Linked DNA regions of Homo sapiens: region 1 is linked to region 2. Evidence: fine-mapped expression QTL. A gene starts in region 2. The other region holds a variant in brackets. All regions are shown on one strand. Distances are between the middles of the regions. Region 1 has its middle 24 kb from the start of DET1. Region 2 holds the start of LINC01586 (long intergenic non-protein coding RNA 1586).

The links. PIP is the estimated chance that this variant, and not a neighbour inherited with it, causes the effect.
Region 1: its variant is fine-mapped to the expression of LINC01586 in thyroid (GTEx, PIP 0.95).

Annotation. Positions count from the first base shown.
Region 1 is chr15:88,569,569-88,572,472 of GRCh38, forward strand. No RefSeq gene overlaps it. Among named protein-coding and RNA genes, the nearest start is that of DET1, 24 kb to the left of the region's middle. The variant T/G (reference allele first, on the strand shown) is at 1,584.
Region 2 is chr15:88,604,041-88,606,944 of GRCh38, forward strand. It overlaps LINC01586 (long intergenic non-protein coding RNA 1586), which reads right to left and starts at 1,070. Exons shown (of 3, transcript NR_120370.1): 1 at 824-1,070. It also overlaps a transcript of AEN not described here. RefSeq lists an enhancer at 330-1,036 and a silencer at 1,750-2,187.

The sequences.
Region 1 (2,904 bases), 34 kb before region 2:
GCTAGGACTATGGGTACCCACCACCATGCCTGGCTAATTTTTGTATTTTTTAGTAGAGACGAGTTATGATCTCACCACTGTACTCTAGCCTGGGTAACAGAGCAAGACCCTGTCTTTAAAAAATAAATTTAAAAATTAAAAAAAATGTAAAATTTAAAACATGAATAACAGCAAAAAATGGTAGGTTTAGAAAAATGTTGTTTTCAAGCTGCTTGTTATTTCCCTTCTCCCTCAAAACAAGGTCATTCATGGCCGTTGTCAGTGAAAACAAATTATGTTTCCTTCATTCTGCAGCCCAGAGACATTGTGTTCTGCTCAACTCAATCCAGCTCAGTAAGGTCTTTATGTGAACATCTTCCCTGCGAAGGTCACCTGCCTAAATGCTAGGGCTGTGGGGTGAGGGAAGGAGACACAAGCAAAAACAAGGGGAGCCCTTGTCTTCAGATTGACTGGAATATAAGGATGAGGAAGGGAATTAGGTTAGAAAGAAAGATGTAGGAATCTTTAGAAGAGTCTCTATGCTAGGACTTGCTCTGCAGGTAGTGAAAAGTGAGGGTGTGATAGGATTAGAGTTGGTTCTTAGGAAGATCATTCCAGGAGCAGTGGGAGGACAGGCAAGAAGAGTGGAGTCAGGAAGGTGAGAGAGCCCACAGACTGGCCCATGCTTCCAGGGGAGGAGAGCAAGGCTGGGGAAGGACAGCAGTAAGTGCAGCCAAGGAGCCCCCTCTTATTGGCCAGCAGGCTTCTCTTAAGTGTGGCAGGCAGGGAACAGGCTAACTCACCCTGTCTTCATGCCTGAAAGAAGAATGCACCCTAGGGCAGTGGTTCCCAACCTTGGCTGCCCAGTGGGCTCAACTGAGGAGCTTTAAAAATACTAGGTCCTGGGTCCCATCCCCAGATAGTCTAATTTAATAGATTTGGGGTATTTTGGAGCTTTCAGAGGATTCTAATGTGTGATCAAGTTTGAGAGCCACTGCTTTAGAGCACCATCAAACACACGAGGAGTCCACGCTCCTGGTCCCCAGGCAAGATCTCATGCTTCTGCCTAGAAGAGATGCTGAGCAGCTGGTCACTCTTTTTATTGGGCTCTGAATTTGAAGCTTTTCTGGGGATGTGACAACTATGTCCTCTGCAGCATTGAGAGCACTCAGCTACTTTGGCTCAGTACTACTGATGGCGTTCTGCCTTCTGATCTCTCCTCCTGTGTTCCTCATCACTATGTGTCCACTTCCTTCTGTATGTCCATGCCTTTACCATGCAATTTTGGGAGGGGCAGGAAGAAACCACATGTGTTCAGGGTAACATCTTGACCTGGAAACTCCTTTCTGTCTTTTATGGGAACAGGGGTGCCGGGGAGATTCTGGGCCTTGGGGACATCCAGTCTTCCTAGTCCTCAATGGCTGAATACAGGAAAAAGACATCATTTTAGGTATATTTATAAAGCAGCTGAGCTCTGTCTCAAGATGGCTAGGATGAGCATTTGGAATAAAAAGTTGATATTTGCGATATGTAACCAATACCCGCAGTAATTAGGCATGAAGTTTGGCCACCTCTTCTATGGGTGAGGCCACCCAGAGTTATTC[T/G]TGTCTTTCCTCCACCCCATTGAGCATCTCCGATGTGACAAAACTAAAATGCTAGAGGCCTGGGTCCAGCACATGAGGCCAGAAAAGAGTGTAGGTACCTGGGAATGTCAGTGCCATTCAGTGTGACCACAGTAAGGGCAATCACCCGGGCAGCTCTCCCAGGAATCTGTCCTTGTGGCCAGCCAGTGGGGTGACTTTCCAGAGTCCATTCCCCTGCCAGTCTATAAGTGGCAAGCTTGGGAGACAGACAGCCAAGGTCCTTTTAGGGATGTGGCTAGCAACCTCTGCCAGAAACCTAGCATGGGTCAGAGGGATAGTCAGCTGCTGTGAACCACTAGATGCCCTGTCACCAACATGGGGCAAGTTGAAGAGGTAGGAAGAGGGAAGGGAGCAGTGGGGACGCCTTCCCCTGCCACTTTCACAAATCATTACTATCTGCTGGGGGCTGGGCCCCACAGTGCATCTGATAAGGTTGTTAAGTCAGCCGGAACACCTGCCCGGCCATCTGGCACTTTTATCCTCTAGACCGGGCCACACAGGCCTCTTTGCCCACCTCCTCAAAGGCAGTGGGCTGCAGGGGTCCCAGGACACCTGCTGGGGAGAATGAGTGTCCCCCAGCCACCCCACCGCCAAGCCCCAGGTGCTGCAAGGCAGCATTCTGGGTCCTCAGGTAACACTTCAGAAATCCTTCTTTATTTTTTTGAGAGATGGCTCCCTAGCAGCAATGTAGCAGGGGTGGGGGCCCCCGCTAAGGCTGCCTGGAGTTTAAACACAGGTTGATTCTGACCTCACTGAGATAACAGAGCAATGTAGTAGTGAGGCTGGAACAGGGAGAATTTAACCACGGCTTTTTCTTCTCTTCATATCAGACTAAATTGGAGCAGCAGCCCAGGGATCATTAATCATCTCAAATGCTGGGCTTCAGAATCTTATCTCCAGTATAATCACCTCATCCCCTCTTCTGGGCTCTGGAAACCATAGCATTTGAGGAGAAAGCACAGTACCTATGTTAGCAGATCTTGTTAGGCGCTATCTAGCAGCACGTGACCCGTTAATGTATATGTTTAGCTGTTCCAATTGAGTTCTGATTTGTGTTAAGAAAAACACAACTGGGGTTGCTGGAAATGTTCTGTATCCTGGCCCAGATGATGGTTATACATTTATAAAACACCATCAAGCTCTACACTTAAGTGTCCTTTATCCATGTTCTCTCTGTCTCTCTCGCTATCTCTTCCTTATCCTTCTATTAATAAGTTTTTTGAAGAAAAATAGGCCGTGTGCAGTGGCTCACGCCTGTAATCACAGCACTTTGGGAGGCCGA
Region 2 (2,904 bases):
GTTTGTCATGTTCTGAAGCTCTCAAGGCTGCTTTGAAGCCTCAGTTTGTCGTGTGTGCAGGCGAGGACCCGGGCAGGTGGGTGAGTCCCGCTTGGGCGCTGCCTGGGTGTGCTCTGCTCCAGCATGCGTCGGTCGAGAGTGAGTGAGAATACGTCTGTGAGCGGTCAGGTGAACCGGGTCTGACCTGCCCAGGTAAGGTGGTGGAAGAATAGGAAATGGCCCTGTGAAAAAAAAATTTCTGCTAATTGGTCTCCAGACGCCTGCAGTCTCCCCCAGCCTCTTCTCTGGGACCAGGCAGCCACCCACCTGCTATGACCAGCCCGGGGAGGGGACGGGACTGGCTCTGGTGTCTCTTCTGGTCCGGGCACAACTGGATTCAGCACTAATGACGGACTCTACCCCAGCGGAGCGCTGGACCCTGGCAGGAGTCGCAGGCTGCCCGCTGCTGGCCCGCGGACCGGCACCCCCTCCCCCAAAGCTGTTGCCATGGCCACAGGGGACATTTGATGTGAAGCGCGGCTCCCCCCTCTCCACTCGCTTTCTCCGCTCGCCTTCAGGATGACGTCATGAACATCCGTGGCCCTGACAGGCCACCCGTGGGTTGGTCTCAGCTTTAAAGCAGCTGTTCTCCTCTGGCCCGGCAGCCGCGGCGACTGTGTTTGCACCCGGCGGACCATGCCAGGACTACGGACCCGGACAGGACTGATGGCCTCAGAGAGGCAAGTATTCAAGGGGCACTTCACAAACAGCTTCCTCAAACCCCACCCCCTCCCCCGCACTGCGCTGCTACTTGCACTGCGGCTCCTGGGGGGAAGCAAAGTACCGGCAGCTGGGTGGTGAGGGGCTTTCTTCCAGAAAGAAACGGAGAGCAAGTGGTCTTCCTCCCTAGCCGCGGCGACCCATGCCAGGTAAAAATCCCAGCCGAGGTCCCCGGTCCCGTCCCCTCCTCCAGGTCAAGGGCTCGGGACTGGAGAAGCAGCCAACTGGAGCTGATATTCGGGAAGCTAAGCCTGAGGCTGCTCTGGAGGGCCGGAGAAGCGAGCGGCCAGGCTTGGCACCCGCCAAATGTGCCTTGCCAAAATGAAGAGGAAGGAAGGCGACTCCGGAGCCCAGCAGGTGAGCGCTCCTACGGGATGCTGGGCAGGCTAGAGGTGTGGGGGCGTCTGGTTCCAGTACCTGCCCGGGGCGACGCGGAAACCCAGCTTGCAGTTTGTTTCGCTCGGTCCCGCGCCCAGTAGGAGAAAGACGGCCCCACAGCCTCGCGGGAGCCGGCTCTCGCAACCCAGCCGCCCCAAGCCCGCCGTCGCCCCTCCTCCCGCGCTTCTCGCCCCTGATTCTAGATGCAGCTGACTTGTTGCATGCAGAAGAGCAGCTGGGTTCGGCGTTCCAAGCCTCTCCTCTTTGCTTTGCCTGCCACCAGATCTGAGCGCCAGGCTGGCCAGCACCCAGAGAGCCCAGAGCCGCAGGAAAAAATGTGAAAAGTACCAGGAGACCACTGGGTAATCGCCCCAGTGCAAAGGGCCTTTCTTCCTACCCACCGCAATTGCAGCAAATAACTCCAGGGAGGGGAATCAGAGGCGCCGGGGATTGCGCCCTGGGAGAGCCCTATCTGCTGAAAGAGAGCGCCTAATGCCGTTACTTCCCAGTGTAGCCTTTCCACTCGGCAGACCAAGCGCCTCTCCTTCGAGTCGCTACCCGCTTGGAGTCGGCTCAGAATCAGGCTGCTAAAGGTCCCTGGAGCCCCTCCCCCAGCGAATCCGAGCCTGCAGCTTCAGCACCAGAGGCTGGACAGCGCCCCGGCCCTAGGGTGCCCATGGTCGGTGCCTGCGCACGGCTCGGCCTCCCAGCCCACGCCACTTGCGCTCGCGGCCCCTCAGACCCCACGCGGAGGAGGTCAGGAGGTGACACAGGTTCGCGGAAGAAAGCGGGACTCATCTTCCTCATTTCTCCAGGGATTTAGGTGTGGGATTCTAGGAGAGCATTCTCTCTCGCTCTGGCCACGACCAGTGGAAAAACTTGGCGCCAAATTTAGGCAGTGGTGCGGGGAGCAGAGGCACGATTGCAGGCGGTGAGCAAAGGGGCAAGCGGGACAGAGGATCTACTGTGAGCCCCAGGCTCTGGTGTTCCGTGAAAAATCGCCACATTTAAATCCTGCGCTCCCCCGTGCTCCCTCTCGCTCTCTCCCCCTTCCTTTTTCCCTTCCTTCCTTCCTCCCCGCGCTCTCTGTATGCCTTAATAGGAGTGAGTGAAAGGGAAAGAGTGGGGTGGAGGGAGAAGATATTGAAGCCGAGGTAAGAAGCACATTTTATCTAGGTCTCAAAACTCAAGCGTGGATGAAATCTGTTCAAAAAGAACATCAAGGTACGCGTTTTTTTACCCAAAGGAGCCCAAAGTGACCTTTGTATGAGGAGCAAAGATTATTGTTTGGCCAAGAAGGGGAAAGATAGCGGAGGGAGAGGCGCTATCACAAAAGGGCTAACGGAGGTGGAGAAGGAAGGGAAAGGACTTGGCACTAGCATGCTTACCAGGCAACCAGTCGCAGCACCTGCCTCCTGTTGCCTTGGTTACGGTGGGTGGCGGGGCTTTGGCCACTGATAATCAGTGAGCACCTTGACTATTTAAAATATCTCCTGGGGAGCCCCTGCCTTGTCTGGGCTAGGTGAGAGGCACATCGATCCCGCGTAAGGCCCCGTCTGGGGAAATCCTGGAAGATGTTTGTTTTTTGTTTGTTTGTTTTTATTTTAAGTAAAGGCGCATAGCAGAGCAACTTACCTTTCCACCACTACAGTCATCCCCTCCCCCCTCCACCCCATGGCTTCATTTCTCCAGGATTTACAATTTGGGCTTTTATATTTTTCATTTAGTCCTTTATACTGAAGGAGCTGAGTTCCTATCCCCACCCTC